Regions from separate parts of the Homo sapiens genome. Here region 2 is linked to region 1. Evidence: fine-mapped expression QTL. A gene starts in region 1. The other region holds a variant in brackets. All regions are shown on one strand. Distances are from middle to middle. Region 1 holds the start of RBBP9 (RB binding protein 9, serine hydrolase). Region 2 overlaps SEC23B (SEC23 homolog B, COPII component).

Evidence for each region. PIP is the estimated chance that this variant, and not a neighbour inherited with it, causes the effect. A credible set is the group of variants that fine-mapping cannot tell apart.
Region 2: its variant is the best candidate, but not a certain one, in a credible set for the expression of RBBP9 in fibroblasts (GTEx, PIP 0.78).

Annotation. Positions count from the first base shown.
Region 1 is chr20:18,489,361-18,505,857 of GRCh38, forward strand. RBBP9 (RB binding protein 9, serine hydrolase) reads right to left here and starts at 7,865. Exons shown (of 5, transcript NM_006606.3): 1 at 7,709-7,865; 2 at 6,478-6,520; 3 at 4,598-4,703; 4 at 1,035-1,120; 5 at 1-630. The coding sequence starts at 7,807. The coding sequence ends at 404. It also overlaps the pseudogene RPS19P1. RefSeq lists enhancers at 7,418-7,467, 7,638-7,797, 7,650-8,214, 7,818-7,867, 7,968-8,027.
Region 2 is chr20:18,529,578-18,546,074 of GRCh38, forward strand. SEC23B (SEC23 homolog B, COPII component) reads left to right here. Exons shown (of 20, transcript NM_006363.6): 10 at 1,103-1,226; 11 at 3,087-3,167; 12 at 6,076-6,165; 13 at 12,719-12,825; 14 at 13,442-13,595; 15 at 16,379-16,456. Among named protein-coding and RNA genes, the nearest start is that of SMIM26, 30 kb to the right of the region's middle. The variant C/G (reference allele first, on the strand shown) is at 9,519.

The DNA of each region.
Region 1 (16,497 bases):
CATGTTTTCTTTCCCCAGTGAAATAGAAAAGTTTGATTTCAAAGAGGAAAAGTGTGCAATACCTGCAACATACATAAAACCTATTTAATTTTACTCAGGAGTGGGAATCAAGAAACCTGGGTTCTGTTTCTGACTCACTTCGGATAGAGAAGGGTAGTTAAGCTGTCCTTATGTTTCTTATCAAATGAGGAAAATACTGTGGTAGTTCATAGCAATTTGGGGAGTTTTAGAGTCTATGGAAAATGGAAGTGCTATTTGTAACTTAGATTGAATGTTGAAACTTGTGTTTGTTTTTCAGGCACTTACGGAACTTAACTGGATGTTCTATGTGTCTAGTAATCAGCTGATAGTAGATATTATTCTACTCCTATATTGGGATGCAAAATAGCAGAAATCATACAGTCTATGCTGGTACTTTCAGCAAAGACTTTACAACAGTAATCAGTTCATGAAACTCTGTGTTCTGAAAGTGGCCACAGTCAGTGAATTTGTGCAATTTGGTTTCCAACCTATCGGCCACTTCTTGTTGTTCCTTCCAGGGAAGGAACGGGTCGTCAGTAGAGCCAAACTGCACAATGTAAGGGCAGTTGGCCTTGATCTTCTCCCACTGCCAGGGGCGGGTGAAGTATCCTATGGGGAAAAAAAAATGATCTTTCAGTACCCATGGATAATCTCCCTTCTAGATATTCTAAAATACCTACTGGCGACCCACATAGAGACGCAAAGGAGCAGAGCCTCCGTGTGAGTTAGAAGCACTTCTTTTGTTTTCAAATCTGTAGGGCTTGATACCACAGTTACTCGTGAAGAGGTGGTATATGGTTCAACTAAAACCAGGCCTCTAGGGTTCAGTTCTAGACTTACAGCTTGGGAAGAAATCAAAGTGCAAACTTATATCCAAAGATAGGTGGTATATCTTTCTCATATGCTATTAGAATTTTTTAGCCTATCTGAAAGACAGCACTGTTTTTACAACCTAAACAGACAGCCCCATGTCTAGAGAAGGGCTTTGCTCAGATTTCTACCTTTGGACTTACCACTTGCACGCTCATTTTCATCCCCCAAGTCTGATGTGTACGCAGACACTAATACAATAGCATATACTCGATGTGTTTCTGCATACCTGGAGAAACAAAAATGATGTCAGCTAATATATAATGTTACCTCTGATCACCAAAAAGTCAATAAACTACTTAAAAACTCATTTGAGGTAGCCTACAGAAAGCACGTGCTACCTGCTGTTGAGGTTGATGTGAAAAATGGCAAGGAAACTGCAGAACTATAAGCCCAACCCTGGCTACTGGATGAGCTTCTACTCATTTTTCTTTTTTTTTTTTTTTGAGACAGAGTCTCACTCTGTCACCCAGGCTGGAGTGCAGTGGCACAATCTTGGCTCACTGCAACCTCCACCTCCTGGGTTCAAACAATTCTCCTGTTTTAGCCTCCTGAGTAGCTGGGATAACAGGCATGCACCACCACGCCCAGCTAATTTTGTATTTTTAGTAGAGACGGGGTTTCACCATGTTGGCCAGGCTGGTCTTGAACTCCTGACCTCAAATAATCCACTCACCCCGGCCTCCTAAAGTGCTGGGATTACAGGCGTGAGCCACCACGCCCAGCCACTACCCATTTTTCAAGGTAGTTGAAACTTGTACAAACCTTTCCCAATAAACAAAAAATGTGTAATCCATCCACGTTTAGTATGCATCAGTGTCACTTGGTTGGTGAACATGCAGATTCTCAGGCTCAGACCCAGAGTCTCTGATTCAGAAAGTTGGCATTAAGGCCTAGAATCTGCATTTTAAGGCGTGATCCCTCCTTCAACCCAGATGACTCTAATGCAAGTGGTCTGTGAACTGTATTTTAAGAAACACTGTATAATACCAGAAATGTACCTTTGTTACCACACACTCCACATTGCCTTATATTATTCATTTGTGTTGTCTTATGTACATTTCTCTCAATAAATTGTCAGCTCCTTAAAGGCAGGCATGAGTCCTATTGATCTTTGTGTTCCTGGTGCCCATTACAGTGCCTGGCAAGTAGACACCCAGCTAACTCTTAGGTTGGTACAAAAGTAATTGCAGTTTTTGCCATTAAAAGTAAGCAGGAGACAGACAAGAAATAAACAGGATGTCAGATGCAATGCATAATCCTTGACTAGATCTAGGATTGACTAGATCTAGGTGAAAAGTACTACAGATAATAAGATATAAAGAGGATAGGAGCCAGTAGAGTGAGTCTCCTTTATTGGCAAAAACCACAGTTATATTTGCAGAGAGCAGTCTCCCTCAGCAAAGACTGGGATAAGGAAAGACACATAGTAGTAATAATTTCAAGGGGCCTTTGTGCCAAGAAAGAGTTAGGGTTGGTATTTTGTTCTTGGGCCTGAACTTTTTTCCCCATTTATTTTGAAAAATATCAAACCTACAGAAACGTTGAAAGAACAAGCACCTAGGCCGGGCACGGTGGCTCACACCTGTAATCCCAGCACTTTGTGAGGCCAAGGCAGGCAGATCACCTGAGGTCAGGAGTTCAAGACCAGCCTGACCAATATGGTGAAGCCCCGTCTCTACTAAAAATACAAAAATTAGCCAGGTGTGGTGGCAGGCGCCTGTAGTCTCAGCTACTCGGGAGGCTAAGACAGGAGAATTGCTTGAACCTGGGAGGCAGAGGTTGCAGTGAGCCGATATTGTGCCACTGCACTCCAGCCCGGGCAACAGAGGGAGGCTCTGTCTCAAAAAAAAAAAAAAAAAAAAAAAGAACAAGCACCTAGATTCATTAATTTTGTCACATTTCACCCGTACTTTAGCATGTATCTCCTGAGAAAGCCACTCCCTTAACCATGGTACCACTATTACACCCAATAAATTTCACATTGATACAGCAATATTATCTGTATTCATTTTTCCCCAACTGTACCAAAAATGTCCTTTAAAACATTCTGCAATCCTAGATCTAGTCAAGGATTATGCATTGCATTTTATTTTCATGGCTCTTCAGTCACTTTAAAATTTTTTTGTTTTAAATGACATTAACATTGTTTAAGAGTGTAGGCCAGTTGTCTTGTACATTATCCTCTAAATAGGATTGTCTGTTTCCTCCTAACTAGACTGAGGTAAACATTTCTGGCAAGGATACTGCATAGGTGATGCTGTGTCCTTCCCATGCCATTACATCAGGGGACACATGATGCCAGTCTATTATTGGTGAGATTAAGTTTGATCATTTGCTTAAAGTGATATCCACCTGATTTCTCCATTGGAAAGGCACGATTTCCCTTTCATGATTAGAGTCATCTGTAGGGTAGTCCTCTATGATTTTGTCAATAGGAAATTCTACAACCTTAACCCAATCGTTTTGGCATCCATTTTTCTCCTTGCCTCCCTTAACTTTAGAAGTCAATTCTTAGAAGGTTGCTAAGAATCCTGCAGTGAGTTCAAGGATCTTTAAAAGCAGGCACACCTTTACTAATCAATGGCTTGAGAAAAATGCAGTTGGCCTTGAGTTGGAACAGAATTCAATAATACAAGGAGCTCTTCCTTTTCCAGACAACCCCTGGCAGCATATAACATTCTTACACTGGGAGTGTACCATAATTTTGTGGTTCCATCCTGAAATACTCTTGTAACTTTAATCAGTGTGGCTGAAAGGTTATGAAATTTGGCAAGATTCCCTGACATGCAATTCATGTGACAGCCTAAGTGACTGCTTGGGACAAATAAAAACTATTATCCTTTGTCATTTTGCCTAGCAAATATGAAAGAAACTCAACCCTTATAGGCTAAACTTAGCTTATTCAGCCAGCTAAGTCCCTACCCACTAGGCCTTATAAGGCTAAAAGGGGAGATGTAATATTCTAATGAGAGCAGTAGGGATGTGCATACGAATCCTAAGGACTGGGGATTCGCAGGTGAGTAACACTGCAGACACAATCTACCATATGCCAGGCTCTCTTCTAGGCAATGGGGTTTCAGTGCCAGAGTGAACAAAGCCCTGCCTTCATGGAGTCTACATTCTATTGGCAGGAGACAGACAAGAAATAAACAGGATGTCAGATGGTAAAAAGTGCTGCAGATAATAAGATATAAAAGAGATAGGAGCCAGTAGAGTGAGGAAGCCATTTCATATGGAGTGATTAGAGAAGGCTTCACCAAAAGGGGACATTTGAGCAGACACTTCAAGGGGAATAGAAAGCCATGCAGTGTCTAGGGCCAGAGTATCCCAGGTAGAAGGATGAGAGCAGGCTAAGATGTGCATGTACTTGGCATGTTCCAGGAACTGCAATGAGGTCAGTAAACCTGGCTGGGAGGAGAGAAGGAGAGTCTGTAGAGACAGAATCAGAGCTGACTGATGGGAAGCTACTGGGGTTTGCAGCCACTTATGCTTTAAAAGGATCACTGCATCTCAATAAGAGCAGATTTTTTGTTTTCTTTCAATCCACTAGCAAAACCAGGAAGGAATTAGGACAGATTATGTTACCACTTTAGAGGTCAGCACTGTTTCCTCTGCAACAGAAATTTAAGATATACGCAAGGTATTTCTCAAGCAAGCATGACTGGAGCCCACAAAGGGGATAGCAGTTTAACAAAGATCGCACCTCATGGCCGCGATGGCCCCAGAACTGTGGCCAATGATGATAGTCTTCTCATCACAGTGCAGCTCTGTCTCCATGAAGGGCAGCCAGATGCTCTCTCGTGCTGTAACTTAAGGTTCAGGGTAAAGAAAAAGTCTGTCATTTGATAGTGGCAGTCTGAATCCAACGCTGCCCCACCTTTCAAACAGGCAACTATTCAGCAGTTCACAACTTTTAAAACTGCAGGACCACAGCAGGAGACCAGACTGTATTAACAAAACCAAAGATTTATGTATTACTACTTGAAAGATCCAAGTCCACAGTTTTGGTAACTAGTTTTTCTTTTCTCTTTTTTTTTTTTTTTTTTGGTTTACCATGTTCTTGTAAGAAAATACTAAGGAAATAATAAAATATAACTCTGAAATTTTAATGTAAACTTTCAAACTTGAAAAAAAAAGCTAATGGTCAGGTGCAGTGGTTCACACCTATAATCCCAACACTTTGGGAGGCTGAGGTGGACAGATCATTTGAGGTCAGGAGTTCGAGACCAGCCTGCCCAAATGCTGAAACCCCGTCTCTGCTAAAAATACAAAAAAAATTAGCCAGGCGTGATGGCGCATGCCTGTAATCCCAGCTACTTGGGAGGCTGACACAGGAGAATCACTTGAACCCAGGAGGCAGAGGTTGCAGTGAGCCAACATCACGCCACAGCACTCTGGCCTGGGCAACAGAGCGAGACTCCATCTCAAAAAAAAAAGCAAAAAAACTCTTGCAACATTCTAAAATTCACATTTATTCATTCTTTCCAAAAAGGGGATTCCTGAGACAAGTCATAGGCATACCCAGAACAAAAGTAGCAATATGACATTTTTAAACATTAGGACCTCAAATAGATGCTGTAAAGTTTTATACCTATGCCTCAAGTATAGTACCCACAAATTCTGCCTGAAAATATTTGTAGACATATAGAAGGGAAAAATCAAGTTGGTGCAAAGTTGAAAATTAAATTTTACCATGCCCAGGTGCTTTCCTAATCCTTACTAGAATTTTCTATGGCTTACCCCATCCGGGAGGTGAGGGGCGCCTCTGCCCGGCCGCCCCTACTGGGAAGTGAGGAGCCCCTCTGTCCGGCCACCACCCCGTCTGGGAGGTGTACCCAACAGCTCATTGAGAACGGGCCATGATGACAATGGCAGTTTTGTGGAATAGAAAGGGGGGAAAGGTGGGGAAAAGATTGAGAAATCGGATGGTTGCCGTGTCTGTGTAGAAAGAGGTAGACATGGGAGACTTTTCATTTTGTTCTGTACTAAGAAAAATTCTTCTGCCTTGGGATCCTGTTGATCTGTGACCTTACCCCCAACCCTGTGCTCTCTGAAACATGTGCTGTGTCCACTCAGGGTTAAATGGATTAAGGGCGGTGCAAGATGTGCTTTGTTAAACAGATGCTTGAAGGCAGCATGCTCGTTAAGAGTCATCACCACTCCCTAATCTCAAGTACCCAGGGACGCAAACACTGCGGAAGGCCGCAGGGTCCTCTGCCTAGGAAAACCAGAGACCGTTGTTCACTTGTTTATCTGCTGACCTTCCCTCCACTATTGTCCTGTGACCCTGCCAAATCCCCCTCTGCGAGAAACACCCAAGAATGATCAATAAATAAATAAATAAATAAATAAATAAATAAATAAATAAAAATGACAAATTCACAGAATTGAAAAAAAAAAAAAAAAAAGAATTTTCTATGGCTTTTGGTTCACACCCTCCTCCCCAAGCTGCTTGCCTTATTCTTTCTTAGGTATATAGGCATCTTTGGTTCCTCCACTATGATATTCTTGTTCTCTACCACAAAAATGGTAATATCAAAACCCAACAAGATGAGGCTATTTAAAAACAAGTTTAAAACTTACTTGGGTCGGGCATGTTTTTAGCCAAACACTGGAAACCAGGTATCTATGATATGAGGGGGGAGAAAAAGCTATAATAAAGAGCTTAATTACAACTAATACTTTGCTAATAAGAAATGAGGCACCTGATATGATCGTTACCAATTCAGTATTAACTTGTGTTATGAAATGAAGTAGGTTAAGTGACCATCTTTTCGCATGAACTCCATCTGTAGTTCTGTATCTAGGCAGCTCTGCTGATCTCTATAGAGAGACCTATATCTGCATTTGTACACCCATATTTGCCTCTACAGGCCTGCATCTATAGAGAGGCATGAACAAATGTGTTCTAGACAGACTGACCTGGAGCCAAATAGACTGTGTTCCAGGGAGTAGGTAAAACGTGGCACAGGAACGTGATACAGAAATTTGGAGACAGCATACTCTCAGAAGCTCCAGCCCTGACCTTTGGGGTTGTAACTCTGACCAGGGTTTTCAGCCACAGCGCTGCAATCTATTCTGGAGACCCGCTCTAGAGGACAGCAACCCAGGGAGCCGACTTACCGCCTGGTTACAGAAGAGGGTTAAAAAATAAAAATCAAACGGCACAGGTCAGCCTACAGTAAGATGCCACTTTTATAAAGCTCACCAAGAAGCCAAATAGAACAGTCTGTTGTTTAAAAGGTATATTCATAGGTTGAAAAGTACTTCAATTTTAAAAAGAGAAGCAGATGAAAAAATTCAGGATGGCACGGGACTGAGATGGGTAGACATAAGGGTCGTTTGGAAGATGATGTATAGGCAATGTCCCAGGTTTTAGTTTGGTAATTCATTACATTATGCCTCATAATGTAGACGCATGTTACGTATATCCTTTGTATATATTAAGTATAGCATATTTAATTTTTTAAAAGCTGAAGCGGGAAGCAGTGAACATGTAAAATTATCTGGGAAGTCCCAAATCTGAACCAGCAGCAGATACGGGGGGCGGGGCTCAGGGGCTCAGCCTCGGTAGTTCAAAGGGGTTCCTTTAACTCTAAAGGCTGAGCCCTCAGAGAAGTCTTCCAGGCAGTTTTACCAGTCAAAATTCGACCACTAGCTCAGACTTTAAGAGAAGGCAGCGGGGGAGAGGCAGGAAAACACACAGGGCTTTGCTAGAGGGGATTAGACGCCTATTCAAACTTCAGCCCTCAGTCCTCTCCCGCCGTCCCTCCCTCCAGGCTGACTTCACGGAGCAGCGGCGTTGGGCGCTTACCTTCTCCAGCTCCTTTTTCACCCAGCCATACCAGCCGTGGGTGGTCACATCCCCGCCTCCGTTCCCGGGAACAATCACTGCCTTGCTAGGAGAAGCCATGAGTGCAGCGAGGCCAGAGTTCCCCAGCGCGGGTCCAGCGGAGCTGAGCCCAGCCTGCTCCCGCAGGGAGCCTGCGCCGCGGCATCCTGGGAGTTGTAGTTGCGGGGACCTGGGAGGCCGGGCTCTTTCCTCCTTGGCCTGCCTTCCGCTGGCTGCGTGGGGCAGCCAAGAACAAAGCCTGCGAGCTTCCATCAATTGTAAAGCAAAGCACCCTTTACTTGCCTCTTACTAGTGCTCTCATGTTTTTCCCTTATTTAAGACAGGCTATGACACGGTTGGGGTGTGTTATTTCTTTGCTAGATTTACTGATATTTCTATAGGAAAGTTTGTTTTTGGTTTCAAACATGCAGAAAACCCATTTATAACCTGGGAACGCCTGAAATCCATATTATTTTTCCTTCTGAGTTTAAAACAGTTTTTAGTAGTCAGTATCAGCCCTGGTTGTTGTTTTTCATTGCTTTGAATGAAATTTCCTTGCATAAAGCTACTAACCCAAGTAAAACAAGCAAAAATTTAATTAAATACCAAGAAAATACTTCGTCAGATTTTCATATTAAACCAGCTGATACTGAAATTGTTTAAAATAGTTTATAACCAATGCTTAGTCCCATATTCCTGGGAAGACAAACAAAGCTTCATGTACATTTGGTCACCGGGTGGGCCATTTAAACATTTTGTAAGGGGATTTCATTCAATTGTTATTTGAATTCCAATTTGTCATTCTGGTTGTATAAAAGCTTTCCCATGCAAGAGGGCTGATGTTATAACAGTAGATTATTATGCTACAGTGTATTTTCCCCCGGTAAAGAAAGCTTTTTATGGTTTGAATTTTCTGGAAACATTGGAGAAGACTGTCCTTGTCATCCACACTACAACAAAACTTCAGGACCTTGGGCTTTGGGTTCATGGTCTCGCAAATGAGAACGGTCCCTCCACACTTTTGGAACAGTGCACCCATTGGAACTTTTGAGGTAAAGCTACCCTGGGAAATTTCTCCCAAGAAGAAAATGGCATCCTTGATGTGAACAGCTTTTCCCAAGTTCACAGATTAAGACTTCTACTACCATGAAACTCTTATCTTTCAATATTTTTTGTCTTCCTTATGCCTCTACAAACAATAGAAGTGGAAAAGGGGTCTGTTATGTGCACTTATGGGGTATACTTTTATTTGTGAAGGAGTTTGCAGCCAGCCTTATACATGGATAAACTTAGACTTTGATAGATAAAAGATGAAGGCCCGAAGTAGGTAAGAAACTTTAATGGTACATGCATTGCTTCATAATCAGTCAAAAACAAAACATTGGTTCACTCCTCTAACCCACATCATGGGTTAAAGAAAACATTGCCAGTAGGCCTTCACTCTTCTAGAAAGGCATCATTTGTTAGGTCCTTTTACCATGGTTTGAAGTAAAAGAAGCAATGATTAGAAATGTATCCCTCATTGGCTGGGCGCGGTGGCTTACACCTGTAATCCCAGCACTTTAGGAGTCCGAGGCAGGCAGATCACCTGAGGTCAGGAGTTCAAGATCAGCCTGGCCAACATGGCAAAACCCCATCTCTACTAAAAATACAAAAATTAGCTAGGCGTGGTGGCAGGTGCCTGTAATCGCAGCTACTCAGGAAGCTGAGGCAAGAGAATTGCTTGAACCCGGAAGGCAGAGGTTGCAGTGAACCAAGACTGTGCCACTGCACTCCAACCTGGGCGACAGAGCAAGACTCCGTCTAAAAAAAAAAAAAAAGGAAAAAAGAAAAAAATAAATTCAGTGGTAGAGGATTAACGAAGAAATTGCTTAGTCAAGTGAGTAAACCCTTTATCTAGCTCATTCTTTGATCTATTTGATTTTAGGAGGTTTGGTTTATCGGGGCCTTGGGTTTAGGAGCATACCCCGAACTCTTGGTGTTATCCTCCCAATATTTATAATAATAGTCTCCCTGGTGTGCTGTATTCTCTCAAAGGTTTTAAATGTTTGCACGCGGTCATCTCTAGAACGTCAGATGTTCTCTCTTCAACTGGAATGACAAAAGCTGAAAGAAATGTGCAACCATGAGAACACCAAAACCTATAAATGATGTGCTGAGACCGAAACCCAAAATGATGGTAACTGAGAGTGGCGCTAAGGCCCTAAGTTTTGGTCACACTCTCACCTAAGTGAGAACCTGACCAAAAAGGGGGAATTTTTTGCACAAAATTTTGCGAGGCCATTGTTTTGGACTAAGCTCATGCATTAGGCCCCAACAAACCAAACCAAACCAAAATGGAGTTGCTTGTGCTAAGACTTCAAGGAAACATAGATTCTAGAACAGACTAGGTTTTGTTTTTTTTTCTGCAAATCTCTATAACAAACATCTCTGACAGCGTAGGTATCCACCCCATGAAGTTCCCATTAAATCTTTTTTTTTTTTTTTTTTGAGACGGAGTCTCGCTGTCGCCCAGGCTGGAGTGCAGTGGCGCAATCTCGGCTCACTGCAGGCTCCGCCCCCTGGGGTTCACGCCATTCTCCTGCCTCAGCCTCCGGAGTAGCTGGGACTACAGGCGCCCGCCACCTCGCCCGGCTAATTTTTTGTATTTTTAGTAGAGACAGGGTTTCACCGTGTTAGCCAGGATGGTCTCGATCTCCTGACCTCGTGATCCGCCCGCCTCGGCCTCCCAAAGTGCTGGGATTACAGGCGTGAGCCACCGCGCCCGGCCATCCCATTAAATCTTTTAACCAAATTAATTTCCTCTCGTCTGGAGACCATCAAGCTTCAGATGATCATGCAACAAAGGTTCCAGCCAGTTCCAGGTGAAGACACCACCCCTAGCCATCAAGAAACTACCCTGCCTCCACTAGATAGAGCAGGGCGAGTTCCATGATCACCAGTAGGTAGGGACTACACCCCAAGCCAGCATGAAGCAGTTACAGAAAAAAGACCATCAGTCCCTCTGCCTCCCATAAAGATTTATGGGGATCACATCTCTCAGCGGGCAGATGAGCCAGGAAAATAGGGTCTGGAGGCAGGGAACAGAAGGCCGATTCACACTTCGGTAATGACAGGAAATATCCTCTTCACAGGGTGTAGGCCAACTAAATGACTTTGTAGCTTTACTTCATCCTCTTCATTTACATAGGGTGTACCCCAAGTAGAGGGTATTTAAATGCTCAAAAATTCTATAATGGGGATTTTGAGGCCTTATGCTCAGGCCTGCTCCCATAATGTAGAGTGTACTTTCATTTTCAATGAAACCCTTCTTTCCTTCCTTTCTTTGTGCGTTTCGTCTAATTGTTTGTTCAAGACGCTAAGAAACTGGACACCCTCCACCATTAACAAAGGGACATGAAACTTTTGGGGGTGATATATATGTTTATTATCTCGATTGTGGTGATGGGTGTCAAAACTTAATAAATTGTACATTTTAAATATGTGCAGCTTAAGGTACATCAATTATACCTCAATATAACTCTTTCAAATTTAAAAATAGTAATCCCAGCATTTTGGGAGGCTAAAGCGGGAGGATTGCTTGAGCCCAGGAGTTTGAGACTAGCCTGGGCAACATGGCAAGACTCCATGTCTTCAAAAATTTTTTAAATTAGCCAGGCACGGTGGTGTACACCTGTAGTCCCAGCTACTCAGCAGGCTAAGGTAGAATGATCACTTGAGCATGGGAGACTGCAGTGAGCTATGATCATGCCACTGCACTCTAGCGTGGGTGACACAGTGAGACTCTGTCTCAAAAAAAAAAAAAGGAATAAAATGTCAACATAAAACAAGCAGAGACATTCCTATAACCAACTGGTTGTTTGCTTAGTAGTTTTTAGTTCAAGAAGCAGTGATACTCCCTAAACAGGAACTGGGGGCTGAAAAAGGATCTAGCAATCTAGCTTCCCTTAAGATTTAGTTAGCTCATTCTTCTAGAAGGAGAAAAAAGGCAGTGACATTAACTCTCATCTTAGGTTGTTTATGCCAATAATAATTGAGAAGATTATAATTACATATATCCGTTTTGTTTTCTACTTTTTATCTCTTGTACAAACAATTTCTGAGCTTATCATTATCACAGAAGAAACAGTTTTAGTTTCAAAGCTAAAAGCCAACATTTTTGTCCATTTTATTTTTTGAGATGAAGTCTCGCTCAGTCACCCAGGCTGGAGTGCAGTGGCGCGATCTCGGCTCACCGCAAGCTCTGCCTCCCGGGTTCACGCCATTCTCCTGCCTCAGCCTCCCGAGTAGCTGGGACTACAGGCGCCCACCACCATGCCCAGCTAAATTTTTTTTTGTATTTTTTTTTTTAGTAGAGACAGAGTTTCACCATGTTAGCCTGGATGGTCTCGATCTCCTGACCTCGTGATCCACCCGTCTCAGCCTCCCAAAGTGCTGGGATTACAGGCATGAGCCACTGCTCCCGGCCATTTTTGTGAATTTTTAAAAATCTGAAAATGCACCTTTATATTTGGTACCTCATTTGCTAATATTGAAGAAGTTGTTCTCAAGAACTTGCTGAGACAGTTTGACTCTTTCTAAAGGGATCACCCACCCTCCACTGAGGCCCTCCTTCTAAAGGGATCACCCACCCTCCACTGAGGCCCTCCTTCTAAAGGGATCACCCACCCTCCACTGAGGCCCTCCTTCTAAAGGGATCTTCCACCCTCCACTGAGGCCCTCCTTCTAAAGGGATCTTCCACCCTCCACTGAGGCCCTCCTTCTAAAGGGATCACCCTCCCTCCACTGAGGCCCTCCTGCTGAATAATCTTCCTCTGCCTGGATTTTTCTTTTCAGGTCAGGATGTTTTCTGTGGGAAGTTTGTCTCTAAGTCTTCAAACTCACGGTCTAAATCTATTCTCCTCTCTTCTGTGGTTACTTTTCCTTTCTGCCACTGCTTTTGTTTACTTGTTTGTTTGAATTTTGGTTTTGCCACCTTGAGGAGAAAGGAGGTCAATGGAAGCCTTCTTCAAAGTCTTGAAGCACACATGGCAGCTCCTGGGAAAGGAAGGGAGGTGAAGAGGCTGTTCTTGGCAGAGAGGAAGGCATGCAAAAGGGCACTGAAACAACAAACAGCACATGTGGGCTGGGAAGGACAGTGGTTCATTACTGGAGGATTGAGATCTGTAGATCATTGAGGCCCGTGAGTAGCACAGGGGCCCCTACTGTATCCTGTGAATGATGGGAAAATTATGTAAGGTTTTAAGCAAGAGAATAGTAGGGTCAGATATGTGATTTAGAGAAGTCTATCCAGCAACCAATGTGATTTTTAGATCGGGCAAAATTTGGGCAAAACAATCATTCGAGAGACTGTTGCAGGAATCCAATCAGAGGATGAGTGCCTGAACTAAGCAAGTAGATGAAATTGAGAAATAGAGTAACAAATTAACAAGACCAAGTGATTCAGTGTCACCTTCAAGGTGGAGGTGTTAGAAATAAGGAGGAGCCAAGGATAACTTCCTACTTTATAGACTCAGTAACTGGGAGAAGAATGGCATCTTCAAGTGAAGATGTACAAGAGGCAGAAGGTTCACTGGGAGCCAGGGGGATGATGGATTCAGTTTAGGACATATTAAGATCGAGATGTGCAAGCATACCCAGTGATATCTGCAGGACATTTCTCCAGACGGCCTTGGACTGGCCCAGTTCTCCCCACTTTCTTGCTCATAGTTCTGAAGAATAATTCCGATGTGCTGGGAATATAGTATTCTGAGATAAGGAGGAAATAGCCAGAACAGCCCAGGCTGTGTTCTAGCCTCACTAAAAACAAGATGTCCTTCAATGCTTTTACGGCTTTTCCCAGCTAGAATACAAGTGGGCATGCACAGACGAGACTCGATCTGCACCGTGTGGCTTTCCTGAGTCTTGAGAGACCAGCTCATGTTGAATCCTAGGTTTCTGCTGTCCCTTGCTGCTTCTCTGTGAGTAATAAATCCACTTCATGTAACTTGTGTATGTGAGTGTTCTGGCTCACCAGACTCGGGCAGGTAGTAGAAGTACAGCCCAAGATGCAGTGAACTGAATTGGTAACCAGTGCACAGTAAACACACTTTGAAGAACCCAGCAGGTTGCTGAATATTTGAATCGGATGTTAGGTAGAAAAGTCTGACCCAGAAATACAGAATTTAGGCTGAGCGTGGTGGCTCACACCTGTAATCCCAGCACTTTGGGAGGCCGAGGTGGGCAGATCACCTGAGGTCAGGAGTTCGACACCGGCCTGGCCAACATGGCGAAACCCCTACTAAAAACACAAAAATTAGCCAGGTGTGGTGGCCTGCGCCTGTAATCCCAGCCACTCACGAGACTGAGGCAGGAGAATCGCTTGAACCCAGGGGCAGAGGTTGCAGTGAGCCAAGATCGTGCCACTGCACTCCAGCTTGGGCAACAGAGAGAGACTCCATCTCAAAATAATAATAATAAAATAAAATAAATAAAAGAATTTAGACTCAGGCTACAGATGATGATAATATGTCAGAAAAATTATGAAAGATTTTGAAATAGTCAAAAGAGGTTACTGGGTGAACTTTCTGTGGAGTGCTGTGCATTTTTAAAAGACTCTCTGGGGGCCGGGAGTGGTGGCTCATGCCTGTAATCCCAGCACTTTGGGAGGCCGAGGCGGGCAGATCATGAGGTCAAGAGATCGAGACCATTCTGGGCAACATGGTGAAACCCTGTCTCTACTAAAATTACAAAAATTAGCTAGGCATGGTCGTGTGCACCTATAGTCCCAGCTACTCGGGAGGCTGAGGCAGGAGAATCGCTTGAAGCCGGGATGTGGAGGTTGCAGTGAACTGAGATCGCGCCACTGCACTCCAGCCTGGCGACAGAGCGAGACTTCGTTTCAAAAACAAAAAATCCCCTGGGTCATTTGCCGTAGGAGGGATGTACCTCTGCCTTTGAGTATGCTATTTTACAACTCTGTAGAGATAGAAATTAACTTATAGAAGATAGTAATGCAAATGTTCCCTGCCCACAACAATGAAAACTATTCCTGTCCACAGCAATGCAAATCAATTTTGTGTGATAGAGAATATGTCACTATAAATCAAATTCTCCTTAGAACCAGTCTGAACATCCCTCCTGGTCGTAGGGATTAATTAAAATCAATGAATGAGTTAAGTAAGATCTTTGGCACATGTTCATTTTATATTTGCATGAAGGCCATAATTTTACCTTTTGAAACACTTTAACAGTTTTGAAGCTTTCACCAACATCCCAATGGATTCACCTGACAGAACCAGGTAAACCACATTACTGAAGAACACCCCATGGGGCTAAGCCCAAGCACATTTTTTCCTGGCTCCGGGAGTGAATACCAAGTAGCAATAGTACTACAGCGTTGCTGACTTTCTCCCTAGGTTTCTTTCTCCTCCTTACTGATTTTGGGTTTTGTTTCTGATTCGCCCACAGCTGGCGGATTTTTCCCCATGAATGGCGACACCAATTAGGAACTCGCGGGAAACCCCGTTGCTCCCTTTCCCCTGGCTGGCAGCGCGGAAGCCGCACGATGCCTGGAGTTCCTGTAAACCACGTGAACCAGCGGGACTTCGTCAGAGCTCTGGCAGCCTTTCTCAAAAAGTCCGGGAAGCTGAAAGTCCCCGAATGGGTGGACACCGTCAAGCTGGCCAAGCACAAAGAGCTTCCTCCCTACGTTGAGAACTGGTTCTACACACGAGCCGGTTCCACAGCGCGGCACCTGTACCTCCAGGGTGGCGCTGGGGTTGGCTCCATGACCAAGATCTATGGGGACGTCAGAGAAACGGCGTCATGCCCAGCCACTTCGGCCGAGGCTTCAAGAGTGTCCTCCGCCGGGTCCTCCAAGCCCTGGAGGGGCTGAAAATGGTGGAAAAGGACCAAGATGGGGGCCGCAAACTGACACCTCAGGGACAGAGAGATCTGGGCAGAATTGCCGGACAGGTGGCAGCTGCCAACAAGAAGCATTGGAACAAACCATGCTGGGTTAATACATTGCCTCATTCAGAAAAAAAAAAAAAAATTAGGAACTAGGTTTTACATTCTGAACATTTGGTGATCTCTTTAAGTGAATTAATAGTTTTTAGAGATCTATTCTCTTTTGGATAAGAGATGATGAAAAATCTGGTTTGTTAGTCTTTTTGTTTGTTTGCCTTTTTGTCTACTTATGAGTTCAAATCAGTTAAGACTTCCATGCCCATTGGGAAGGAGAACAGCTTTTTGTTATCTAGTCCACTGAATTTTTATGTTTCTGAATTTACTTTCGACCTGTGGCCAAAGTTGCAGAACCAAAGCTATATGCTATGTGTCTATGTGTCTTCCCGGCTGTAATCAACAAAGGCCTTCCCCTCTTGTTGTGGGAGTAAAAAAATCTTACTACCTTTGTAAAGTTTTAATAAGTTATATTATTTCATGTCTTAAAGGAGCTCTGTTATAATTCACTTATGGAAACAAACACATGTAAATCAATTATTTCTAAAATTCCAGAAAATAAGTAAATTAAACTTATGCATGCAAAATTTCTTAAAAATGCTGAAACCATCCTGACAGGGTTAACAAGATTACAAGCCAGCCTTTAGGCAGGTTAGTTAGGCACTGACCAGGGTGCATTGGTGCCCTTCAATTCACTTCCCTGCAGCTGCTAACTAACCAAAAGCCTTGCAGCACACTGATCACCTACTCCCTGATTGCTCCTATCCACAGAATCTCTGACACTAGCTCTTTGTACCCAGGAATTGCTTAAGGTATTTTTCAGATCC
Region 2 (16,497 bases), 40 kb after region 1:
ATGCCATCTGTGGCTCAAGACAGTTGCTGGAGCTCTAGCCATTTACAGCAGCAGGAAGGAGGAAAGGTCAGAGAAGGATTGCTCTTCCTGGAGGAACACACTCCACATATAAAGGACACAGCAATAGTCAGAACGCACATGCCAACAGAGGCACATGGCCATAGGCAAGGCAGGCTGGAAAATGTCATTGTTCCAGGAAACTAAGGAAGAGGTAGATATTTGGTGCCAAAGAGCTGACAGACGGTTCAGGCACTCTGAGATGGCCGGACCAGATGATCTTTCTTGTGTTCTTCAAGATTCTGAGATCTTGTTTTATGAATGACGTTTGGAGGCATAACTTGCGTCAAGCTGTGCTTTTCTGTCCAAATGCATGAAATGCTGACATTTTGCACAATGTTTTCCTCTAACTTCAGTAAGGGATTAATATTAATACTCATGAGTTGGAAAACATAATTCTTGTAAAGTCAAGAATTCAGTATTTTGAGGCAGTAAATTAACCTGAAAAGGATTTCCCACAGGCCTGGGTATTTTCCCATACCAAAGAACTGTGAGAGGAATTAGAGCTGTTCTTAAGGCTTCTGTTTAATGCTTTAGAAGTAGTTTCTTTGCCAAGTATGAATTTAACATGCTGTTTTTATTTTTTTAATTTATTTTATTATTTATTTACTTATTTATTAATTTTTTTTTTGTTTGAGAAACAGTCTTGCTCTGTCGCCCAGGCTGGAGTGCAGTGGTCCGATCTTGGTTCGCTGCAACCTCTGCCTCCTGGGTTCAAGTGATTCTCCTGCCTCAGCCTCCTGAGTAGCTGGGATTGTGGCTACTAATCTTTGTGTTTTTAGCAGAGATGGGGTTTCACGATGTTGGCTAGGCTGGTCTTGAACTCCTGACCGCAAGTGATCCGCCCTCCTTGGCCTCCCAAAGTGCTGGGATTACAGGCGTGAGCCACTGTGCCTGGCCTGTTTTTTTATATTTAAATTAATCAGTGGCTCTTTTGGGGACCTGGTTTCTTTTTTTCTTTAAATTATTTTTGTAAATACTGAGGGAGCATCTGAATGGCTTTCAATCTTCCTAATATTCACTTGATTTTTTTCTTCTTACCTAGAGGCTACATGGTAATGGGAGATTCTTTCAACACTTCTCTCTTCAAGCAGACATTCCAAAGAATCTTTACTAAAGATTTTAATGGAGATTTCCGAATGGCATTTGGTGCTACTTTGGACGTAAAGGTACGGTAAACTTTTTTTTTTTTTTATGTGGACTCACTGTACTGCCCAGGCTGGTCTCAAACTCCTGGTCTCAGGCAATTTTCCCGCCTCAGCGTCCTAAAGTGCTGGGATTATGAGGCATGAGCCACTGTACCTGGCCATACTTTTAAAACTTCAATGAAATTATAGTGTTCTTACTTTTTCAATCAATATCCAGACTTCTGGCAACCTCCACCTGCTGGACATGGGCATGTAAAAGCCAATTAAAAGGATCTCAACCAAATGGCTATTAAAAGCATGTTATTCACTTTATCCCTTTGCTTCTTGAGGATGACCTATATATTTATTTATGTTCTAAGTAACAAGCTGCCTGGTTCACCCTCAGGCTCTGCTCCACCCTGCTTCAAGGCAGTAGGAGATAGAAGAGGAAGTAGGGTGGGTGTTATGAGCAGCACTGTGGCCTGAGGACAGGGGCAGCCACACGGTGGTCTGCATCCACCCAGCCATCAGCATGGCTCACTGCATTGCACAGAGACGTGGTTATGTTTAATGTCTTCCTGAAGAATAGCCAAAGTACTCTAAAATAGCACTGGGCCAGGCATGGTGGCTCATGCTTGTAATCCCAGCACTTTGGCAGGCCGAGGTGGGCGGATCACCTGAGGTTGGGAGTTCGAGACCAGCCTGACCAACAGGGAGAAACCCCATCTCTCCTAAAAATACAAAACTAGCCGGGCGTGGTGGCACATGCCTGTAGCCCCAGCTACTTGGGAGGCTGAGGCAGGAGAATGGCTTGTACGTAGGAGGCGGAGGTTGCGGTGAGCCAAAATCCTGCCATTGCACTCCAGCTGTGGCAACGAGTGAAACTGTCTCAAAAAAAAAAAAAAAAAAAGACAGCATTTTGAGATTTTTTTTTTCCCATGTAGGGACTCATGGCCCTGATACAGCTGATTCTAAGTCATTGAGAAAGCATTAAAAGAGGGTGTTAGGCCAGGCACGGTGGCTCATGTCTGTAATCCCAGCACTTTGGGAGGCCAAGGTGGGGTGATTGCATGAGCTTTGGAATTACAGACCAGCCTGGGCAACATAGCAAGACCCTGTGTCTACAAATGATTTAAAAAAAAAAAAATTAACCTCGTGTGGTGGTGCACACCTGTGGTTCCAGCTACTCAGGAGGCTGAGGCGGGAAAATCACATGTGCCCAGGAGTTTGAGGCTGCAGTGAGCTATGATCATGCCACTGCACTCAGCCTGGGCAACAGAGTTGCCAGTTGGCGGGGCAGGTCAGGGGCCGTCATTAGAAGATACGATTGGAATTATTACTTGGAGAATTAGAGATAATTATTAAATCATCTAGGTTAGACTTTAAACCATAATCTTAAATGCTTGAGGGTTTTCTTTTAAAGATGGACTTTTGAAATGAATTCACATTTTAAAAATCTAAGTATGTTGGCCTTGTCGTTATATTGGAGTTCATGAATTAAGTATTTTTAAAGCAACACAAAACAGTATGTTCTCTGATTAGGTATATGCAAATAATTATGGATATACATGAATGTGAATATATTCATACAAGGGATTGGAAAAGAATGTAGTATTGTTAGAATTGTTATCTACATGTACAGTAATTTCCAAGTTTAAAAAGTAAGTTGTGAGAGTTGAAAATGCTCATGTTTCAAGTGTTTCTAAGGGTGGATTTTATTAAAGTTCTAATCACAGTGGCTGAGGAAAAGTTTGTAGGACTAAGCAGTTATGATCCCTGTGGAGTTTTCTCTTGGCAGAATAGTAGTGTTATATTTTCCCTCTAAGCTTTCATTGTGGCCATGATGACAGCAGGGTGGATTGAAGTGATCTTTAACTTTACACTGTCACATATTTGTTATAGACCTCTCGGGAACTGAAGATTGCAGGAGCCATTGGTCCATGCGTATCTCTGAATGTGAAAGGACCGTGTGTGTCAGAAAATGTAAGGAAAACAACTCCATCACCCTCACCTCCTGCCCCGGATTTAACCCGTCAGAAGTGTCAGAGCATGATGATCTCACATGTGTCACCTGTTGGATGTGTCTGCAGTGACAGGAGAAGGGCTAACCCTCACTGATGACTATACTCGGAGAGGTGGTGTTATTCCATCTGTTCATCCAAAGGGTTAGAGAGAAGGAAACTGAGGCCCAGAAAGGTTCAGTATCTTGCTCAGGGTCAGAACTGACATGAAGGAGTTAGAGCCCAGGTGCCCCTGACTCCACCACCCATGGTCGTTGTGCCAAAGCCACGGCATGCTGTTCAGCACAAGGCAAACATTCAGCACAGTCCTTCCAGAGTAAGCCTATTGCTCATTGCCCTTAGAGGTGATACGTTTGTCTCACTCAGCTAATAACAAGCCTTTTACAACAGAGACCACCATGAGTTGGTGTGGAAGTGGGTGACACTGCTGTGTGTGCAGACATCTGTTTTCTCTAGTAATAGTTTTTGAGAACAATTTAGTTATCATTTGAGATGAGCGGCTTTGCTTATTGTCCACTTCCTCTGATTATACTTTACTTGCTAGGAGGCAAACCATTCGGTTTGGCAAGGCCTCTCTAAGGTGGTCCTGGGCTGGGGTTACACAGTCATGTTCTTCCCTCATTGTCACCATCAATGGGAGGGTAGACCATAGAGCCAGATGTGGATCCAAGGTGCAGGTTTACACCCCGCACCTGGCCCGAGCAAAGGACTTATTTGCTCTGTGATTCAGTATCCTTATCTGGCAAATGGGGATAATAACAGTGCCCACTCTACAGCATTGTTAGGAGGTTTAAATGAGTTGGTTCAGGTGAAGCAGTTAGTGCCTGGCACACTGGAAGTGTGGGTCTTCTTTCATGTTGTCAGCAACAAACGTTCTTGGGTGACCACATAAATTAAACTTTTGTTGAGCTTGGCAGAGGCAAGGTGATTTGAGAGCACATTCCTGTAGCCTTCTGAGTGAGGCAGATTGCTGCCCTAAAGCCCATCTGATGAGTCATTCATTACCCCCAGAGTACTAAGGGGCTTGTACCCCTATTTCCTGGCAAGGCTTTGGAAGGCTGCCTTGTTATAAAATATTTTTCATGGACTTAAAATCTGCCTGCTGAAGGCTTCTTGAAGTAGTTTAAGAAGGTATTTTTATGAATTAGTACAAACTAATTAATATTTCTAGTAGAATTCAGCCATGAAAGTTTTGTTTGGGGAATGAGGATGCAAAGAATAGGAAAATACAATTTTCAGACATACTGAGTGATGAATTTCTATACCTACCATTTAGTCATTGATTGTTAACATTTTGCCATAATTGCTCTGTTGTCTTGTTTGCCACATTTGCTTTATCTGATTTTCATTTATTTGCCACATTTGATTTATCAACTTTTTTTTTGCCGACCTTTGAAAATAATTTGCAGATATCATGACAGTCCTTAAGCACGTCAGTATGCATCTTCTAAAAATAACGATGTTCTCCTACCACGATGTCATTATCAAACTTAAGAAAATAATAATTTCCTAATATCTAGTTCATATTTTTTTCCTAATTTCCCCCCAAATGCCCTTTGTAGCTGTTTTTACCCCAACTGGCATTGCATTTGATATTACAGCCTTTGTAAAGTGAGAGTCTGGGTTAAAGGTGTGTTTACATTCAGGCAAAGCCTTTTTGCCAAGCATTGTTCCTGGGCAGTGTGTACTTTATGCTTGTGTCACATCCAGAGGCACTATGTCTGCTGTCCCGTGTTACATGTGCTGAGTTAGATCGCTTGGTGATGGTGGTAACTGCCCCACTGCCTTTCTACTGTAAGGGAACACTTCCCCCTTTGCCATTAGCAGGCAATCTTTTGAATGAGAGTGTGTAGCACAATATGAAACTCTTGTTTGCCAACAGCCTAATGGTTTTTAGCATCCATTGATCTTCATGCAAATCAGTTTATTTCTTTGGGGATTATAAAATGGTCATTTCCTAATTGTCTTTATCGTTTCTCCAATAAAGGCATCTAAAGAGCAAATGTTTAAGTAAGGAATTTGTGTATCAGTGAGAAAATGATATTTTGGAGCTCTAGAGGAGCCGTCCTGGGTCTGGTGCTTAGAATGGGGTTAGCAAGGCAAGAAGGGGAGGCATGAATGCTCCTTTGACTTCTTTGCCTTTTTCCTGAGCACAGCTCTTCACCTTCCAGCAGATAATAAACACCTGCTTCCTTTAGAAAAGGCCACTACAAGGAAGGTGAACCCCCGTGAATCCATCTATCTTATTATCTAGCTTAGGGAGTACTGACAGAACAGAGTGCACCCTCTCCGCTCTCCACCTTAGAGCTGCTGTGTGATTTCACCTTAAGGGTCTTTCTTAAGAGTCTGACTTGATTGATTCTTTGTGGATTTCAGCGTTATATACCATGTAGAGACACCCCCTGACACACCCACCCCCCCCCACACACACGTAGTATATGTGTAAACCCGGAACGATGGGTCACACCTGTAATCCCAACACTTTGGGAGGCTGAGGCGGGAGGATTGCTTGAACCCAGGAGGTCGAGGCTGCAGTGAGCTGTGATTGTGTCACGGCACTCCAGCCTGGGCAACAGAGTGAGAGACCATCTCAAAATAAATAAACATAAATAATATATATGTATAGTATATATGATGTAATAAAAATTGGTCAGAATGTTAATATAAAAAGCTTAATTTTAAAGTGTAAATGTAAATGTTAAGCCTTCATCTGTTCTCTTTTCAGGAGAAGGTTTTATTTCAACTTAAATGTTCTCCTAAAAGAAGATACTCTAAGTAGCCTGCCCTACTCAGTCAGTACTTTTCATTAGCAATTAACCACAGGGATGGTTTTCTGGTTTTGTTTTTCAAATTCCTCTTCCCACCCCCAGGAGCTTGGTGTTGGTGGCACGAGTCAGTGGAAAATCTGTGGCCTAGATCCTACATCTACACTTGGCATCTATTTTGAAGTTGTCAATCAGGTGAGTTGGATTTCTTCACATGTCTTCATGTCTTAGTGTCCTGTTTTGTGATTTATCTCAAACCAGTGGTCTCTGGTTACTTTCTTCACAAACCAATATTCCTTGGGTATTGTATTAGGCCTGATGATAGTCTGGCATGACCTTTTCTTATTTATTCCTTCAAGGGTTTAGTCGGAGTCAGGCAACAAATTACTTTTGTCCTTTTATTGTTGAACTGATAAGGTCATTAGAAGTGTAATAGATTTTACCAGTCATCATAATGTTGGTGAATTTTTTAGTGCATCGGTTCTTTCCCTAATATTTTATTATGAAAAATTCCAAACATACAGAAAAATTGAAAGAATTGTACGGTGAACACGTACTACCTAGGTGAACCCATCAACTTGATTCTGTAATTAACATTTTACTCTACTGGCATACCTTGGAAATACTGTGGGTTCAGTTCCAGACTACCACAATAAAGTGAATATTGCAATAAAGCAAGTCACATGAATATTTTGGTTTCCTATTGCATATAAAAGTTATGTTTGCACTATAGTATGTTAAGTGTTAAATAGCATTATGTCTTTGAAAACATTGTTCATTCTTGGATTAAAAAAATACTTTACAGTTGACCCTTGAGTAGTGTTGGGGTGCTGACACTGCATAGTTAAAAATCCACATATAACGGCCGGGTGCTGTGGCTCACGCCTGTAATCCCAGCACTTTGGGAGGCCGAGGCGGGCGGATCATGAGGTCAGGAGATCGAGACCATCCTGGCTAATATGGTGAAACCCTGTCTCTACTAAAAATACAAAAATTTAGCCAGGTGTGTTGGTGGGTGCCTGTAGTCCCAGCTACTTGGGAGGCTGAGGCAGGAGAATGGCGTGAACCCAGGAGGCAGAGCTTGCAGTGAGCCAAGATCGTGCCACTGCACTCCAGCCTGGGCAACAGAGCGAGACTCCATCTCAAAAAAAAAAAAAAATCCACATATAACTTTAACTCCCCCAAAACTTAACTACTAGTAGTCCACTGTTGACTGGGAACCTGACCGATAACAGTTGATTAACACATATTTTGTAAGTAATATATATTATGTCCTGTATTCTTACAATAAAGTAAGCTAGAGAAAAGAGAATGTTATTAAGAAAATCATAAGGGAAGGAAAGTGTATTTACTATTTGTTAAGTGGAAATGAACATCACAAAGTCTTCATACTCTCATCTTCATGTTCAGTAGGCTGAGGAGGAGGAGGAAGAGGAGGGTTTGGTCTTGCAGTCTTGGGTGGCAGAGGCAGAAGAAAATCCACATATAAGTGGACCTGTACAGTTCAAACCTGTGTTACTCATCATTAAAAAGTCAGGAAACAACAGGTGCTGGAGAGGATGTGGAGAAATAGGAACACTTTTACACTGTTGGTGGACTGTAAACTAGTTCAATCCTTGTGGAAGTCAGTGTGGCGATTCCTCAGGGATCTAGAACTAGAAATACCATTTGACCCAGCCATCCCATTACTGGGTATATACCCAAAGGACTATAAATCATGCTGCTATAAAGACACATGCACACGTATGTTTATTGTGGCTCTATTCACAATAGTAAAGACTTGGAACCAACCCAAATGTCCAACAATGATAGACTGGATTAAGAAAATGTGGCACATATACACCATGGAATACTATGCAGCCATAAAAAACGATGAGTTCATGTCCTTTGTAGGGACATGGATGAAATTGGAAATCATCATTCTCAGTAAACTATCGCAAGGACAAAAAAACACCGCATGTTCTCACTCATAGGTGGGAATTGGACATTGAGAACACATGGACACAGGAAGGGGAACATCACACTCTGGGGACTGTTGTGGGGTGGGGGAAGGGGGGAGGAATAACATTAGGAGATATAACTAATGCTAAATGATGAGTTAATGGGTACAGCACACCAGCATGGCACATGTATACATATGTAACTAACCTGCACATTGTGCACATGTACCCTAAAACTTAAAGTATAATAATAATAAAAAATAAATAAATAAATAAAAAAACCTGTGTTGCTCAAGGGTCAACTATATTGCTCAAAAATGTTAATGCTCATCTGATCCTTTAGTGAGTCATACTCTTTTGCTGGTGGAAGGTCTTACATTGATGTTGTTGGCTGCTGACTGATCAGGTTAGTAGTTGCTGAAGGCTGAGTGGCTGTGGCAGTTTCTTCTCTTTTTGTTTTTTTTTTAATTAAGACAAAGTCTTGTTCTATCACCCAGGCACGATCTATCACCCAGGCACGGTCTTGGCTCACTGCAACCTCCACCTCACAGGTTCAAGCCATTCTCCCACCCCAGCCTCCCGAGTAGCTAGGCTTACAGGTGCCAGCCACCATGTCTGGCTAGTTTTTGTATTTTTAGCAGAGACAAGGTTTTGCCACAATGGCCAGGCTGGTCTTGAACTGACCTCAAGTGATCTGCCTGCCTCAGCTCCCAAAGTGTTGGAATTACAGGTGTGAGCTACCACGCCCCACCTGGGAATTTCTTTTTTTTTTTTTTTTTTGAGACGGGGTCTCGCTCTGTACCCCAGGCTGGAGTGCAGTGGCATGATCTTGGCTCACTGCAAGCTTCGCCTCCTGGGTTCACGCCATTCTCCTGCCTCAGCCTCCCGAGTAGCTGGGACTACAGGCACCCGCCACCACGCCCAGCTAATTTTTTTTTTGTATTTTTAGTAGAGACGGGGTTTCACCCTGTTAGCCAGGATGGTCTCGATCTCCTGACCTCGTGATCCGCACGTCTCTGCCTTCCAAAGTGCTGGGATTACAGGCGTGAGCCACCATGCCTGGCCGGAATTTCTTGAAATAAGGCAACAATGAAATTTGCTGCATCAGTCGACTCTTCCTTCCAGGAAAGATTTCTCTGTAGCATGCAGTGTTGTTTGATAGCTTTTTACCCACAGTAGAACTTCTTTAAAAAATGGAATCAATTCTCTTAAACTTTGCTGCTGCTTTATCAACTAAGTTTATGTAATATTGTAAATCTTGTCATTTCAACAGTGTCACAGCATCTGCATGAGGAGTAGATTCCATCTCAACAAATGACTTTCTTTGCTTATGCATAAGAAGCAACTCCATATCCATTAAAGTTTTATCATGAAATTGTAGCAATTCAGTCCCATCTTCAGGATCCGCTTCTTCATCTTTTTAATTAAAAAAAATAGGCCGGGTGTGATGGCTCCCGCCTGTAATCCCAGCATTTTGGGAGATTGAGGCAGGTGGATCACGAGGTCAGGAGTTCGAGACCAGCCTGAACAACATGGTGAAACCCCGTCTCTACTAAAAATACAAAAAAAAAAAAAATTAGCCACGCATCGTGGTGCACACCTATAATC[C/G]CAGCTACTCAGGAGGCTGAGGCAGGAGAATTGCTTAAACCAAGTGATGGAGGTTGCAGTGAGCCGAGATTGCGCCACTGCACTCCAGCCTGGGAGACAGAGCAAGACTCCGTCTAAAAAAAAAAAAAGGCCGGGTGCGGTGGCTCACGCCTGTAATCCCAGCACTTTGGGAGGCCAGGGCAGGTGGATCACGAGGTCAAGAGATTGAGACCATCCTGGCTAACATGGTGAAACCCCATCTCTACTAAAAATACAAAAAACAAAATTAGCTGGGTGTGGTGGCGGGTGCCTATAGTCCCAGCTACTTGGGAGACTGAGGCAGGAGAATGGCATGAACCCAGGAGGCGGAGGTTGCAGTGAGCCAAGATTGCGCCACTGCACTCCAGCCTGGGCGACAGAGCAAGACTCCGTCTCAAAAAAAAAAAAAAAAAAAGAGATGGGGTCTCTCTTTGTTGCCCAGACTGGTCTCAAACTCCTGGGCTTAAGCCACCTTGGCCTCCCAAAGTGCTGGGATTACAGGCGTGAGCCACCACACCCAGCCAGGATCCACTTTTTTTTTTTTTTTTTGAGATGGAGTCTTGCTCTGTTGCTCAGGCTGGAGTGCAGTGGCACCATCTCAGCTCACTGCAACCTCTGCCTCCCGGGGTCAAGCAATTCTGCTGCCTCAGCCTCCCGAGTAGCTGGGATTACAGGTGTCTGCCACCACACCCACCTAATTTTTGTATTTTTAGTAGAGACGGGGTTTCACCGTGTTGTCCTGGCTGGTCTTGAACTCCCGACCTCAGGTGATCCGCCTGCCTTGGCCTCCAAAGTGCTGGGATTACAGGCGTAAGCCACTATGCCCAGCTGAGGATCCACTTCTAATTCTAGTTATCTTGCTCCTTCCACCACATCTTCAGTGACTTCCTCCACTGAAGTCTCAAACCCCTCAAAATTATAAGAACTGGAGTAAACTTCCAAACTCCTGTGAAAGTTGATATTTTGACCTCTTCCCATGAATGATGAGTGTTTCAATGACATGTAGAATGGTGAATCCTTTTCAGAAGATTCTTCATTTTCTTTGCCCAGATCCATCCCAGGAATCACTAGGTATGGCAGTTATAGTCTTATGAAATGTGTTTCTTAAATTTAAGACTTGAAAGTCAAAATTTCTCCTTGATTCATGGGATGCAGAACGGATGTTGTGTTAGCAGGCATGAAAACGTTTATCTCCTTTATATCTCCGTCAGAGCTCTTGAGTGACCAGGTGCATTGTCAGTGAGCAGTAATATTTTGAAAGGAGTCTTTTTTTTCCTGAGCAGCAGGTCTCAACAGTGGGCTTTAAATATTTAGTAATTGCTGTACACAGATGTGCTGTCATCCAGGCTTTGTTGTTCCTTTTGTAGAGCACAGGAAGCGTAGATTGAGCACAATTCTTAAGAGTCCTAGGATACTTGGAATGGTAAATGAGCATTGGCTTCAACTTAAAGTCACCAGATGCCCAGGTATGGTGGCTCACACCTGTAATCCCAGCACTTTGGGAGGCCAAGGTGGGTGGATTGCTTGATCTCAGGAGCTCAAGACCAGCCTGGGCAATGCTGTGAGGCCTCATCTCTACCAAAAATACAGAAATTAGCCAGATGTGGTGGTGTACGCCTGTAGTCCCAACTACCTGGGAAGCTGAGGTGGGAGAATCTCTTGAGCCTGGGAAGCCGAGGTTGCAGTGAGCTGAGATCATGCCATTCCACTCCAGCCTGGGTGACAGAGCAAGAACCTGTCTTAGAAAAACCAAATAGAGTCACCAGCTGCATTAGATCCTAACAAGAGAGTCAACCTGCCCTTTGAAGCTTTAAAGCCAGGCATTGACTTCTCTCTAGCTATGAGAATCCTAGATAGCATCTTCTTCCAACTACACTGAAAATCTGTGGTTTAGTGTAGCCACCACCTTCATCAGTGATCTTAGCTAATCTGAATAACTTGCAGCAGTTTCTACATCAGCACATGCTGCTTCACCTTGTGCCATTATGTTATGGAGATGGCTTCTTTCCCTAAACCTCAGGAACCAACCTCTGCCAGCTTCCAGCTTTCTCCTGCAGCTTCCTTACCTCTCTCCACCTTCATAAATTGAAGAGAGTTGGGACCTTGCTCTGGATTAGGCCCTGGCTTAAGGGAATGTTGTATCTGGTTTGATTTTCTATTCAGACTACTAAAACATTCTCCACATCAGCAATAAGGCTGTTTCACTTTCTTATCATTCACGTGTTCACTTTTAATTTCCTTCAAGAACTTTTTCTTTGCATTCACAGCTTGGCAGTTTTGGGGCAAAAGGCCTAGCTTTCAGCTATCTTGGCTTTCAACATACCTTCCCTACTAAGATTAATGAGTTTTAGCTTTTGATTTAAAATGAGAGATGTGTGACTCTTCCTTTCACTTGAACACTTAGAGGGCATTGTAGGGTTATTAACTGGCCTCATTTCAATATTGTTGTATCTCAGGAAATAGGGGAGGCCCAAGGAGGAGGAGAGAGATGAGGGAAAGGTCAGTCAGTGGAGCAACAGAATATACACAACATTTATCAGTTAAGTTTGCCATCTTATATCAGTGCAGTTTGTAGCACCCCAAAACAATTAAAATGGTAACATCAAAGATCACTGATCACAGATCACCATAGCAGATATATAATAATAATGAAAAAGTTGGAAATATTGTGAGAATTACTGAACTGTGACACAGAGACATGAAGTGAGCACATGATGTTAGAAAACTTGCGCCAATAGTCTTGCTTGATGTACGATTGCCACAAATCTTCAATTTGTTAAAAAATCTGCAAATAAATGAGGCATGTCTGTGTTTGTTTAATGATTAACAATCCGTCACAAACTGGATAATTCATCAGCAATAACTCATCCAGTTTGTGATTCATCAATCCATCTTCGTTTTGCTGCATTTCAAAACAAGCCTCAGTCATCCATGTATTTCATGCCTAAACACTTCAGTAGGTGTATCATTAACTTAAGTTCAGTATTGAACGTAGTTCTTCAACTTTTTTGGAGATAAGGTTATATGCAGTGAAATGTGCAAATCCTAAGTGTGCCCTTCAAAATGTGTCAAGAACCTTCCTGTCATTGCTGTGTCAGTCATTTTAGAAGAGTACAGTGGGCTCTGTGACCGTGTTTGAGTTGCGCCTATAACAGACAAGGTTATGGCCTCTCATCCTACAGCACAACACCCCGATCCCCCAAGGAGGCAGAGGAGCCATCCAGTTTGTCACGCATTATCAGCACTCCAGCACCCAGAGACGCATCCGCGTGACCACCATCGCCCGAAAGTAAGCAGCCCCAGTTTCCTTTCTGTTGAGGAACTGACTGACATTTTTCCCTTGAAGAGATACTTTAACATTTGTTAGTTTGTCTTTTTGATTCCATTGAATGGTTCTCACCAGACCTCATTAGCTTATTTGATCAGAGGAGGAGGCATTTTTGGCTAACCCAGTTGGGCCTATGAACACTTGCCTAGAGGAATCATCTTTCTGTAGGAAATATAGTTCATTAAAAGTATTAATTATTATTATTATCATCTGGAGACAGTCTCGCTCTGTTGCCCAAGCTGGAGTACAGTGGCACAATCACAGCTCACCACAGCCTCAACCTCCCATGCTCAAGTGATCCTCCCACTTCAGCCTCCCAGGTAGCTGGGACCACAGGCACCTGCCACCAAAACTAGCTAATCTTTTTACTTTTATGCAGAGAGATGGTGATCTCACATTGTTGCCCAGGCTGGTCTTGAACTTCTAGGCTCAAGCAGTCCTGCCACCTTGCCCTCCCAAAGTGTTGGGATTTCAGGAATGAGCCACTGCACCTAGCCTGTGTTTCTTTTTCTGAATGGATGTCTGGCTTTCTGATCTCTCCTAAACATAAGCATGGCACTAACTCTGGAATTGTCAGTTGGGCAGATGTACAGAGTCAGCTCAGGCACATAGAAGCAGCATTTGACCAGGAGGCTGCGGCAGTGTTGATGGCACGGCTTGGGGTGTTCCGAGCGGAGTCAGAGGAGGGGCCCGATGTGCTCCGGTGGCTGGACCGACAACTCATCCGACTGGTAAATTGGGGACAGTGGCATTAGGTTCAGTCTTGGTTTCTGCTTTACTTTCGAGAAGAAAATTGTCACTTAATTATTATTATATAGTGAATCAGCAAGAATTTATCAGTTGCCTACCTTATGCTGCACGCTGGACATTCTGTTAAAGACGTGTTAAATGTGCATTTTCCCCTCAGAGATTTACATTATAGTTGGGAAGAAACAACACGCATGGAGCATTTGGAGAGTGATACAAATCTGTGTGGGTTGAGTTGACTTAGATGAGTCATTTTGTGAATGCTCTGGTCTTGTATTTTTCTTCTAAATCTGGAAAGTGGTTTTGGAAATAGGGATCCAGCCTGGTAAGTTTAGGGAGATGCCTTTTATCAGTCTGGATTTAATGAGATGAGAGAAGTCACACTGTAATTTAAATGGGGAAAGTCTTTTATAAAGAATACAACAAGAGAGTAGAACAGTGAGGGACTGGCTAGAAGGAAGTATAGAGAAGTGGGCAGCCACTACTTGTGGGGCTGAGATAGAGCACCAAAGGAAGTGCCCTTCTCCCCAGGGCTGATCCAGACCTAGTTGGGAGGGCATGGCCATGGCTTGGTGAGTCTTTTGCAGAGAAGTTACCGTGGTGCTGTGCCAGGGGAACTTACTAGAAATTCACTTTCTAGAATTTGAAGAAAATCCACCCTCCAGGGTGCCAGGGAAAGCTGTGTATAGGAAAATGTCTCACTGGAGACATGCAGGGATGCTGCTTAGCTGCTGGCTGCCATGTTCTCCAGGAGCTCAGCACTGGGGAGCCACGGTGCAGCAGGACCTGGCACCCGGGAAGCTGCTGAATGAGCACTCGGGCGCCCAAAGCTGACGCTCACCTCCAGCACTCTCTACTGACAACGCTTGATATCGTGCCAGCTGGCAAAGGAGAGGTAGTGAAAGGGCCCATGTCCATTTCACAGCAGGCAAAGGGGGTGAGTTTGGAGCCAGCACAAGGCAATAAATCAATAATTGGCACATGATAATCTTACCTTCCTGGAGAGTCACAGCATGTGTTTGTGATCAAAGCCACCATGGAAAGGCCCAGTAGGGAAACCTGTTTCATTTTGTTCAGCCCTCTATTTGCCCTTGCCATCTCATGGAACCATTTTTCAGGAAGTGTCAACATTTCAAACATAATTTGAAAATTGCTTCTTTAGGATTTCAGAGGGAGGATAGATAAGCAGAGGGCCCAGGTGGCTAACAAAGACTTCCTGTGGAAATGAGCCTTGAGTCAGGTTTTTATTACAGAATTAATTGGAGAAGGGAAGGCAAGGCTTGCTGAGTGGAGGGCTAGCAGGAATGAGCCTGCAGGAGCTAGCTGGGTCTTTTAGCTTATGCTGAGGACTTTGGAGAAACCAGTGTCACAGGAGGCTAGGTTGTGCAGTGGGGAACAGAGTCAGGGAAGGTACACCTTGATTGGGGAGCTCCTTAACTTTAGGGAGCAAGGGAGACGTGGCTGTGATTGTTAAGCGGGGGTTTGATGTCAGCATGATGCTTGTGTTTACATTTAATATCACCATGTGAGGCACATTGCAGAGAGAAAAGGCTATTGTTGTGAATGGAGGATTTTTCAGGCTCAATGGCACTGAGACCAGCATAGTGGCAGGAGAGATGGAGGAAGCAGAAGGTTTGAAATCAGGATGTAAACTGAAAGAATTGATAAAACTTGATGAAATGATTCTGTGTAAAGTCAAAAACCAAAAAGTCAGCACTGAATGACATTTCACACATGGGTAACTGCATGAGTGGTGTTGAGGTAGAAGATGGGAAAGGAGAGCAACTTTAGGGTGGGAGAAAGTTTTTTCTCTTTTTTTAATGTAATAGTTTATTTTTGATAATTTTTGATAATTGAATGTGAACTTGCAAAAGTGTGTCTCACGAAAACTCCCATATTTGGGTGGATGTCCTGACTGGGGCTCAGGCTATAGGTCAGCACTGGACACTGGAGGGTGGATTTGGATGACACCCATCTGGCTCTAGTGTTCATTTGTACCCAAAGCAGTGAGGATGGGAGGAGGGGGCCAAGAACTAACCCCCAAGGAGTCCACAGTTAGGGGGAGGAGGAAGACAAAACCATTGAAGAAGGCAGAAAAGGGTTGGTTGGAGAGATTATGAGAAATAGGAAAGTGATGTATTAGCAGCTGAAGGAGAAAGTTTCGAGACATTTGGGCAGTCACCTGGCTCATGCTGCTAGGAAGTTCAAGAAGACGAGAACTGCGGAAGGACACCAGATTTTGTGGGAAGAAAGTAATTGTTAGAAATGGGGTTTCTTTAAATGATGAACAGTCCAATTCTTTAGTGACCAGAAATGTGTGAGCAGAAATAAAGGCGGGAAGAGAAAACATTGTGGTTCAGAAGTCTGCCATTGGGAGAAATAAATTTGAGTTTTAGTGTGAGAGAACATCAAAGCGTAACTATAATTGTTAGTTTTCATGGTGTTAGAGGGTTTTCATATGGAACAGGTGCCTGGAAGAGCTCACCTAGCTTCTCTGGTTAGGGCAGTCCTCAGGCCAGCATTGCCTGAGAGCTGATTAGAGATGCAGAATCTTCAGCTCCTCCCTAGAGTCTGCATTTTAACAAGATCCCCTGGTCATTTGCCTGCTCACTGATGCTTGAGAAGTGCTAGTCTAGGACTTATAGTAAGTGGCAGAGTTCAGACTGGATGTAGCTTAGTCCAGGAATATTTCCAGGTAATGCTAACTTAGATTTTTCTCTCTCTTTTTGTGTGTGTTTGTTTGTTTTTTGGTATTTTCTTTCCATAGTGTCAAAAGTTTGGACAGTATAACAAAGAAGACCCCACTTCTTTTAGGTTATCAGATTCCTTTTCTCTATATCCTCAGGTAAGTAATGTATGTTTCTAAAATAACTACAGAGCAATAAA